3 linked regions of the Homo sapiens genome follow. The protein of the gene in region 1 purifies or fractionates together with the protein of each later gene. This does not show direct contact. Each region holds a gene or a part of one and is shown on either strand. Other genes may lie near its edges.

What was found.
Region 2: the proteins of LAMTOR4 (region 1) and FNIP2 purify together in Homo sapiens (affinity purification with mass spectrometry; one large-scale study listed by BioGRID and IntAct). This does not show direct contact.
Region 3: the proteins of LAMTOR4 (region 1) and BORCS5 purify together in Homo sapiens (affinity purification with mass spectrometry; one large-scale study listed by BioGRID and IntAct). This does not show direct contact.

Annotation. Positions count from the first base shown.
Region 1 is NC_000007.14:100,151,897-100,154,833, reverse strand, and holds the end of LAMTOR4 (ragulator complex protein LAMTOR4), read right to left. Parts: intron 2,119-2,937; exon of another isoform or gene 2,077-2,118; intron 1,435-2,076; coding exon 1,317-1,434; intron 985-1,316; coding exon of another isoform or gene 968-984; coding exon 870-967; 3' UTR 631-869; downstream 1-630. UniProt on the Homo sapiens protein: As part of the Ragulator complex it is involved in amino acid sensing and activation of mTORC1, a signaling complex promoting cell growth in response to growth factors, energy levels, and amino acids.
Region 2 is NC_000004.12:158,904,944-158,908,619, reverse strand, and holds the end of FNIP2 (folliculin-interacting protein 2), read right to left. Parts: 3' UTR 570-3,676; downstream 1-569.
Region 3 is NC_000012.12:12,355,876-12,359,992, reverse strand, and holds the start of BORCS5 (BLOC-1-related complex subunit 5), read right to left. Parts: upstream 2,916-4,117; 5' UTR 2,876-2,915; coding exon of another isoform or gene 2,875-2,875; 5' UTR 2,542-2,874; coding exon 2,484-2,541; exon of another isoform or gene 1,555-2,483; intron 1-1,554.

The sequences.
Region 1 (2,937 bases):
GGGCATGGCTGGGACTAAGCCACCAGTATTCCCCGAGTTCCTGTGGGGGGGGCTGGCCCCACCCCTAGGCCAGGGCAAGGGTTCCCAGAGCTCCCTTGTCCCCGGCCCTTTACCCTGGTTCTGAGTTTACAAAGTCTCTTCCTCATTCCCGTTGAGTTCTTTCCCACCTCTGACATTCCCTCCCTCCCTCCCGCAGGGCTGAGATTAGAGGGTGGTGATGGCTAAGGGCCCCTGACAGTGACCTTCCTGTCTCAGGGGTTGGGGACAGGGCCAGGTAGCCTCCTGCCCCTTATGTTTACGTTTGCAGCCTGAAGCACTTTAATTTTTTTTTTTTTGGTCTGTTCCTGTAACTTATTTTCCAACTATTGCTTCCAACTGAAATAAGACTATTAAATGCCTGTTCAGGAGGGAGAAGGATGACTAGTTTGTGTACTGATGGGAAGAGCAGAGGTCGCCAGGGCTCAGGGTGACTCCCTTCCCCTCCAGCTTTTTCTGCTTCCCAGTTTTATAGCACACAGAGGTGGCCCTGCCGCACCCAACTTGGGCTAAGGTGCATGACTTTCTCCCCAGAAGGTGGAAGACAGACATGGGGTGTAACCATTCCAACACTAAACACACATGTCCCTGGGCTGGAGAACATCAGACTCATGTTTATTAGGGAGTGAGGGAGCACAAAGGGAGGTCTCCTTGCCCTTGTTCTCCTTAACACAGCTCAGAGTCCCCAAGCCTGGGCCCGTCCAGGTAGGGGTGGGAGGTGGGCGAGCAGAAGGCCCTAGTTCTAGCAGCAAGCCAAGACCGACAGGTGTGCCTGCCTCATCACAGAGGCCCAGGACCCAATCCGCTTCTCCGACCCTCGCCCTCCGGCAGGCTCAGACATCAATGGGCTCCCGACCTCGGTTCTGCCTCTTCACCACAAACACCCTCTGTCCTGACACCGTCACCAGCAGTGTGTGTTCTCCAAAGACCACTGGAGGAGAGACACACCTTCCCCCGCCCCAGGAGAGGGAAGGGAGCACAGAGTTAGTGGGTGCAACAGACTCCATGGGGCGGGGCCACACGCACATTGGCTGGGATCAAAGCCAAAGAAGTTCTATAGTTCCAGGCTCAGAGATTTGAAGATGAGTGGCCTCTGCTAGATCTCCTTTCTCTTGCCTTCTCATTCACAATTCTGATACCAGGGAGTCCCAAAGGGAGGAAAGTGGCCAGACCAGAGACCCCAGGAGATGGTAGGAGGCTGGAAGAAGAGAAGCCGAGAAGCCCCTGGAAGTAGCCCCCCGCTCCCAGTACCACCACCAAGGGCAGGGGCAGGGGCTCACCAGACAGGCGCTTGAAGGGCACATTCATGCCGCGGTGCAGCCGGAAACCGCAGGCTGTGCTGACCAGCTCAGAGATGGCACTGGCTGCCTGCTCATCATTCTCCAGGTCCCCAGATGACTGCATGCAGACGGAGGAGGGAGAGGGGCGGGCATTACGGCACAGGCTCAGGAAGGAATTCCAGGCACAGTCCCCTTGGTTCTCACACTTAGACCCTCTCCCCCTTGGCTTGCCAGTACCCTCAGCTTTGGAAAAAAACAACCTGAAATCTCCCCCTATAATGTTGTCACCCTCCGGATGCCATCCTGTTTCCCATAATACTGGCCTTCCCCGGATGAGCAGTAACTTATCCATCTTTTTTTTTTTTTTCTTTTTTGAGACGGAATCTCGTTCTGTCACCCAGGCTGTAGTGCAGTGGTGCAATCTCGGCCTCTCGGGTTCAAGTGATTCTCCTGCCTCAGCCTCCCAAATAGCTGAGATTACAGGCACGTACCAGCACCACCACATCTAGCTAATTTTTTATATTTTTAGTAGAGACGGGGTTTTACCATATTAATCAGCTGGTCTCAAACTCTTGACCTCAAATGATCTGCCCGCCTCAGCCTCCCAAAATGCTGGGATTACAGACGTGAGCCACCGTGCCTGGCCATCCATCTCTTTATTGACCATGCTTTTCTAACCCCATAAAACTGGATTTCTCCCATGTCCCTGCCTATTTGATAAAGCCACATTCTCCAAAATGAATGCCTGCCCACCACTTACCTGTTAATGGCTCCATCTTTTTCTGTCTTCACACTTGCTGCCCTGTTTGCAGAATCTCAAACATAAACATTCCCTTTGTCCTTGAATACCTCCCTCTGTTGACCCCTAGAGTAAGTGATGGGACAGTGGCTTGGGCTTCCTCTTTTCTGGTGACTGTCTCAACTTCCTCTTCCCTCTTCCTTGATATGGGCCTCCACTAGATTTAGTTCCTTTTGCTGAACTAGCAATATATATTAACTGCTATTTTATATCAAACTCAATGTCTAAAGTTGGGCCATCAAATTTCACCTTATCCTTATCCACCTCCTTCCCAATCCACTTCTTTTTTTGATTTCCTGTTTGTTTGTTTGTTTTTTGAGACAGAGTCTCACTCTATCACCCAGGCTGGAGTACAGTGGTGCAATCTTGGCTCACTGCAACCTCTGCCTCCTGGGTTCAAGCAATTCTCCTGCCTCAACCTCCCAAGAAGCTGGGATTACATGCATGTGCTTCCATGCCAGGCTAATTTTTTGTAGAGATGAGGTTTCACCATGTTGGCTAGGGTGCTCTCGAACTCCCAACCTCAAGTGATCCACCCACCTCAGCCTCCCAAAGTGCTGGGATTAAAGGCGTGAGCCACCACGCAGGGACATGTTTCTTAAGGCATCATCACTCTTCCAGGCTTTAGAGTTCTGGCTACAGAAATATTTCCTCTATTACCTATTTCTAGTCATTAGCAAGATATACTGATTCCTCCTTTAAAATAACTTCTTCCAGCCAAGCACAGGAGCTCATGCCTGTAATCTCAGCACTCTGGGAGGCCAAGGCAGGAGGAATGCTGGAGGCCAGGAGTTTGAGACCAGCCTGGGCAACATAGCAAGG
Region 2 (3,676 bases), on another chromosome or scaffold:
ATTGGTGACTCAAATTCCATGGGTACCATAGCTACCAAACTATGTTACCATTGGAAACGCAGTTTTCCAAAAGTATATCAATTCTTGGTAAAGACCAAGTGACCACTTCTTGCTAAAATTCTAAATCTTACAAAGTAAAAATCTTCCCTCAATTTATACAACAATTGCATTCCTGGAGAATGCATTATATACAAAAATCATGTAAAAATACATTGTGTTTTTTATGTATAGCAGAATTATCTGCTTAATTATAAACAGGCTTTTTTAGCCATATAAATGTCCAGCAGGACATTTAAGGGTTACGCAGGAGGTGGGTGGGACAAGTCCTCATCCCATGGGGCTGTCTCACATGGTGCAGGACCTCTCGCCTATCATCTGAGCCCCCAGCCTCTCTGTGCCAGTAACCCTAACCTGGCATTATGCTAACCAAAAATGTCCCTGCATTTCCAAAACACCCCGGTTAAAAACCACTGAGATAAATAATCAGCTTGTTTTCAGCACGAATTATTAGAAATGAGACCTCTACATTTTATTAAATATAACAAATCGCATGCAGCACCAGGAAAATGTTCAAGATAAATTCAAAAGTTTTATTGCACCAAATGCCACAGAAAAATGGATCAAAATAATACATAAACAAGTTAAAAAAAATTCCCACACAATGACATTGGTATCTATTCAGACTGATCAAAAACGAAGTCCTATCAATTTCTCTTATGGAGCTTCAAATGACAAATTCCAGAATTTTCTCGTTTTTGAAATACCACTTAAGTTTAAGCATATTGCAATCTCACTTTCAAGATATATCGTTCATCATATTTTGACATTTAAAAATTAACATTCAGAGGGGACTTCTTGATTTAGGCAAAAATTATATTAAAATACCCTCTCCCCCAAGCACAATAAAAAACAAATGGTTCACATTTACCAAGAGAAGCTGAAGACATTTTCAATTTAACGTGGAAGTATGCATGAACAAAATATTCTCTAAAGTACATATTAGCGGAAAAATCCAGACTTTAAAAGAATTTTGGGATACTTTATATTCTTTATTATTTTTATGTACAACCAACTCTAGTGAAGAACCTAAAAAGCTACAGACTAAATTTTTATAAAATCTCAGGACCTAATTATAAGAGCCCAAACAACGGTTTAGTATCATTTAGCAAGCGGGGATTTTTCTCCCTCCAAAAACGTTAATTTTGAAAAATATGGTTAAGTTTAAAAAGTTGCAATGTGTAAACGGCAGTTCCATGGGATGTGAAAAGATTATAGTTACTTTCATTAAAAAACAGCACACTTCGAAAAATGGATTGAAGCCTGTACAAAAAGCTATTTAACACTGATTGATAAAAAATAAAATACTTTGGAATTATGCACAAGTATGGAAGCTACATTTTAAATTTTCATTGTCATGTCTAAAACGTACACAATTACCTTTACATTCATTTCACTTACCAATTTATTAAAAATAAAACTGCAACATGCTAGAAAGAGGTCCATCACAGGGACATTTACAGACTTCTGCTCTGTCATGCCTCACTAGCTTGCTTGGAAAAGCAAGATGCTACAAAAGTTACACTCAACAGGTAAGACTTAAAAGTTGAAGAAACCCTAAAGGTGGAATCCTGTCAACTGAGGTAGATTTCTTTTCTTTTTTAAAAAAAATTGTTTTATGTTTTTTCTTGAGGTGGGCATGGGAGCAAGTGGGGTCCCTTTCTTGCCTCTGCGGCTAAGCCAGAATGAAGCCACTGGGTGGTGTACGGCGTGTGAGCGGTGGATCTCAACACAATTCTGTGAGGTTTTTTTTTTCTTTTTTGCTTTTAGGAAGAGGCTGAATTTAAGACAAAGAAAACTTGAATGTTAAATATTTAAAGGATTATAAAAGAGCAGCAACATTCTTGGTCTATTTTTGTAGGCAATAGATATGAGGATTAGGTTCTGACTGGAATCCTGAGTGTCACGGAGACAGCCCCCACATGTGACCCACCTGTAGTTTTCCAACAGGCATTTTTCCAAGAGTGAGTTTTGGAACATTAAATTAAGAGCAAATTAAATTTTCTCAGGCTTTGAGGGGCCTGGGCTGAATTTTTTTAATGTATAGAGTTTAGAATCAACGATTTAAAGCTCAGTGTCCCCTATATGGGTCTAATTATGAACATGCCACTATGTCCACATTAGAATTGAACTGATTTTGTAACAAGTTATTTTCTATGAAACCCTGGAAGGTGGTGAATGAGGGAAAGTGCCCAAAACATGTAAACAAGAAAAAAGGAACTAGAGACGAGGGGAATGCTTTAAACTGTAAAAGCTGTAACATCAGCTCTGACAGTTTATTTACACGTAATGAGAAACGGATGTGGGGTGAGCTGAGCCACAGGTGAGGTTCCTTCTCTCTCTGTAACACAACAGCAAACAATGATGTCATGGAACTACAGAACTTAAAACACCAAAGTCAAATGCTAGGCAAAAGGAAATAGGAAAACATTAAAAAGAATGAACATTTCAATTTTCAATGAATGACATAAAATGATAAAGATCTTACAAAACTTAATGCACTCATCTACATTTTGCATCATTAAAAAAGGGAAAGGTAGCAGTTCTGATTTTTATCAAATGAAAAAACTGAAGTCATTCTAGTCCCTAATAGGGAAATTACTTCATAATCTTAGGTTCAAAGATACATGAAAAGAACTGGAATTAATTCATAAAACAGTGGAAGGGAATCAGAGCCTGGTTAACTGCTTGAGATCTGCAAAGTGCTAAAGATGTTTTGCTTTGCTAGCTTAGCTCCTGTCCTTTAATGACCAATATTTAAAAGTCTTTTACTTTACCCTGGATGTCAGTACATAGTCTGTTTCACGGTCAGTAAACTGAAGTTTCTTTTATATTAACAGAAAATTAGGTTGTTTTTTTTTTTTTTTTGCATGAACTTTAGGAAATCATTTTGGTCGGTTTTATACAATGTGTAAGTTAATGTCTGGAAAGATGTTTTGAAAAGGATGCAGGAATTAGAAGGCACAGAAATGATAATATAAAAATTTAGATCATATATGAATTTTTTCTAAATGTTCAAGCTAATTGCTTTCATTAGTCATCCTGAACTGCTGCAGGTTTCATTTCCCACCAGGACAGCTGTGCCTTTTAAAGTAAAAATAGTCATTTGTATTAACTATAAGGAAAAAGTGGCTTCAGCTGGAAGAACTTACCAACCGAAACACTCTTGAGCTTATAGAAATAACTTTGGTAAGTGGCCTCTCTTAAAAAGGCTGCTGAAAGCTCTAAAATATAAGGATAAAACATACGGTTTCAGACTGTACACTTTGCTGCTACAAACTACATCTTGATGGGATTAAGAGGCTACATTGATTCTTGGGTTTATTGCACCAACAATCCATCTCTGACCTACCCATGGCTGCATCTGAAACAAGGTAAACTCCAAGAAGAAATGAAAACAGTGGGTCCCTAAAGCACTCTTCCCAACAAGCAATTCTTACATGTTTTATGTCAAACAGTCACTGCTAAAGCCACTGGAGCTGAAGATGGCACAATGTGGCTTTCTTTGCTTTACCTTGTCTAAAAAGCAAACTGTGACCTGGAATCCAAAGTCTGTATTCTGATTGTTGTCTCAGAATAGCAAAATATGTTTTCTCCAGTTTGGGGAGCTCATGCTTAA
Region 3 (4,117 bases), on another chromosome or scaffold:
CTTTCTCTTTAATTCTCCTGCTATCTTGAGATATATATATATATCTCCCTATTTCTAAAATGAGAAATAAAGGGTACAAAATTTAACTGTGACTTGCCCAAAGTCAGCAGTGCTAGACAGTTAGGAAAGGAATTAGACATCTACAAGTTATTGGTACACAAGGCCCATCTCTGCGACACTGGAGTTGCAAAGCTGTCTATCCACCCTACCACATCAAGCCAGCTATGTTTAGTAAGTCCAGGAAAAAAACCTGTTCTCAACCCCCGAATGACTGGCCTATTCCCGAGGCTTCAGCCTCCTCACTCTTTTTTTTTTTTTTTTAAGTCAAGGCGGCTGGGCACGGTGGCTCACGCCTGTAATCCCAGCACTTTGGGAGGCCAAGCCAGGTGGATCACTTGAGGTCAGGAGTTCGAGATCAGCCTGGCCAACATGGTGAAACCCTATCTCTACTAAAAATACAAAAATTATCCAGGCGTGGTGGCATGTCCCTGTAATCCCAGCTACTTGGGAGGCTGAGGCAGGAAAATTGCTTGAATCCGGGAGGCGGAGGTTGCAGTGAGCCAAGATCATGCCACAGCACTCCAGCCTAGGTGACAGTGAGACTGTCTCAAAAAAAAAAAAAAAAAAAGAGTCAAGTCTCACTACATCGCCCAGGCTGGATTTAAACTCCTGGGCTCCAGCAATCCTCCCACCTGGGCCTGAGTAGCTAGGACTACAGCCCCCTCACTCTTAAAATTATAGCATTAGTCCAGGGCAAAAATAGCCAGTAAGTCCATTCTAGGCTGAGGCAAAAATCAGAAATTTGGAGGACAAAGAGGGAGATCAATTCAGGTTCCTTGGGAGAAAGTAATCCATTTGGAGGGAAGTGATTCAAATTATAAAGGACTCCCTAGACCAAGAAATCATCCTCTCCCCCAAATATCTTCCAGACTGGGACAAGAATGAATCTTTAAAGTGTTTTATGCTCTAGAAGGTAATATTCCCAGGCTCATTATAGTCATATCTCAAAGGTTAATCCAGGGATGCCATAGAACTGTTCTGCCTCCTAGAAGCTCGTCTCCGGAGGCTTGGCATTCACTCTTCTAGAAAAATCTCTGCTGCTTTTATTTCTTTTCAAGAAATATTTATTTACCTGTTTTGGTAATTTACCTAACATTTTACAAAAGCCATGCCAGAAATCTTTCCTGCTATAAATTGTGATTCCTCCTTCCCCAGATACCAGAGGAAAGGGGACTTCAAAACACTCTAGCTAACCTCTACTACTTTATCTGTAAAATGGGATTACTGCAAAAATTATATGTAAATGTATGTAAAGTACCGGGCACAGGGGAATAGGCAAATTCTAACATCGGAAATGCTCGAATGCTGTTGGTTCATGGGCAAGAAAACAAATTAAAAAGATGCCACACCGCTTCCCCCTAAAATATGTTTCTGCCCTGCCATAGAGGCAAGAATGTCAAAGGTGGCAATTATTATATTTCTTATAACAGATATGACACTCTGGCCCTTCCAAGGAAATAGAAAAACGTAGCAAAGCTAGTAGATGCTGCTCACCATTCAAAGCTGCCCCAATCCAGTCCCCAGAATGTAGGTCTGAACTAGTCTTGAAAGTCACACCTTAAAGTGAAACACCCTTAGATCTATTAGCTTGCCTATTTCTGAATTACAGCTCCTATCAAGAACAGAGAACTTCTAAAATCGGCGACTCTTTTTAGGCCCCAGATTTAACCAATTTGCGTTAGCAACCCCGGAGCTTAACCAAAGCACTCCCAGCTGTCCTAGCGTGTGGGTAACAAAAAAAGCAGCAAATGGTCCTCAATTAAACATCAGCTGCTTTATCTATTTATTGAACACTCACTGTATTGCAAACACAATAATCCTCCCATTCTTGTCTCAAACGCTTAGAGAAGTCTAAAAATCATGGACAGAGAACAACAATGGAAAACACCAGTGCCTGCTGTCTGGCCAACCTCTACAAGATTAGAAAACGGACCAAGACACCTTCTGAGAAGAAAAAGCTGTTTCTGGAGACCTTTGCACTAAAGGGTTCAAAGCAAGTGGACACCTATCACATATCCCTTCAGAAAAGGAACCTCTAACACCCGTTTTTAAGAAACAGACTGTTCTTAGAGGTCCTATAATCCATCCACTGTGTGAGCCAAATCTCACTACATCAGCCATGAGCACTAGAGCCAAAAATTAATTAGCTCGTCTTTTAAACAGGAGGCTGTAGCTGGGAGAAACGGCTGTTTTGAAAATAAATAAGGGCACTGGCGCCCACGCTGGCTTAGCTTGCAGTCACACGCACTTCCATCAGGGGAATCGAGGCCAGGACAGATGGTGACTTTTTTTTTTTCCTACTAGCACGGTGAAGGCTTTTTCTGTGCGTTCCCGTCCGCAGTCCCTGACCCTAGTCTGGGAGGCAGCCCGCTCTGCAAGGGGACAGGGCGGGCTGGAGGAGGGTGGGAGGTTAGGACACCGACCTGAGGAGTTCAGATCGTTGGGTCGGCTCTCGGCCTCGGAGCTCTGCTCACTGCCCATGGTGCCGACAGCGGTGGCAGCAGAAGAACGGCGGGCCGGGCGGTCACCGCTCCGGCGGCGGGCGACAGGGCAGGGGCCAGGGACCGGGACGGGGAGGCAAAGCAGAGTCTGGGCGCCGCAGCGAGGCTAATGTGTGGGGCTGACGCGTCCAGCCCACGCAGGGGCCTGGGCGGCGGGAGAAGGAGAGGCCCTATTTGGGGAACAGAAACGCAAGGAGGCGCGGCGCGAACGCACGCGGCTAGCCCTCCTTCTTTCCGGGAGCCCTAAGAGAACCGGCAGATGACACTGGCTTTGCCGCACCTGCGGCCGGCGGGCGGCGCCGCTTTCACTCACTGGTTCACGCTCCGCAAGCTCGCTCCTTCCGGGACGCAGATGGGCGGTGCCGGCTACGCAAGACCTTCAGTTCCGGATTAGGAGGCCCCGCCCCCCGGCCCGAGGGAGGGGCGGAGAGACCCGCTCCTGCGACTTAGGGCGATGCCACCTTAAAGGGCTTGACCTCCTCGAAGCCAGAACTGCGGAAGAGGGTAAGCCCTTTCCTGTTGTAAGGATGCGTCACCTTTAAAACACCACCCACACTATTAAGCTCTTCAATACCCACATGTGAGAACAACTTTACAAAATAGGTATTTTTAACCCTGTTTTACAGATGGAGAAAGAAACGCTAGATAGACCCAGGATTCGAACCCACAACAGCTTGGATGCAAAGCTCATTTTGAATTCTGAAGAGCTGGGAGTTTAGCAGTGGACGACCAAACAAAAAAATACCAGAAGACGGTGAAAGCAGCAGCTGGAAATGAGAGAAAAATTAAGAAATAGAAAATGCTGTTTCATGTATTAGGGAGTGCACATCTTTAAAGAGAAGTGAAGAACCTTTTTGGCTAGGCGCTTTCTGGGGACCTTGGCAGTTATCAACAAGTCACTCTGAAACTAACAGAAGGTGAGGAGGGAGTAATCCAGAAAGGAAACTGCCATTTTTGCTAGGGCAAGAAAGTAGACCTAGCAATGCAATGCCATCAAGGAGTTAGCTGGCTCTAGCGTTCTCCGAACTTTGCAACTCATTTTATATTACATTGTCTGCGTCAAGAAATTTCAAGTAAATGCCTTGAGATTTTATATGTATAAAATGTAGTCTCTGGCCAGGCGGGGTGGCTCACGCCTGTAATCCCAGCACTTTGGGAGGCTGAGGCGAGTAGATCACGATGTCAGGAGATCAAGACCATCCTGGCTAACATGGTGAAACCCCGTCTCTACTAAAAAATACAAAAAATTAGCCGGGCATGATGGTGGGCGCCTGTAGTCCCAGCTACTCGGGAGGCTGAGACAGGAGAATGGTGTGAACCCGGGAGGCAGAGCTTGCAGTGAGCCGAGATCGCGCCACTGCACTCCAGCCTGGGCGACAGAGCGAGACTCCGTCTCAAAAAAAAAAAAAAAAAAAAAAGTCTCAGAAGAAGTGTCAAGTTGACTAAATGATTTTTAAGTCCCTTCCACTCTACTATATCACAATAATTTCCCCTATTTTACCTTATTTAATTTTCACAACAACCCTGCAGCCTGTAAGTAGGTGACTCCTCCATGG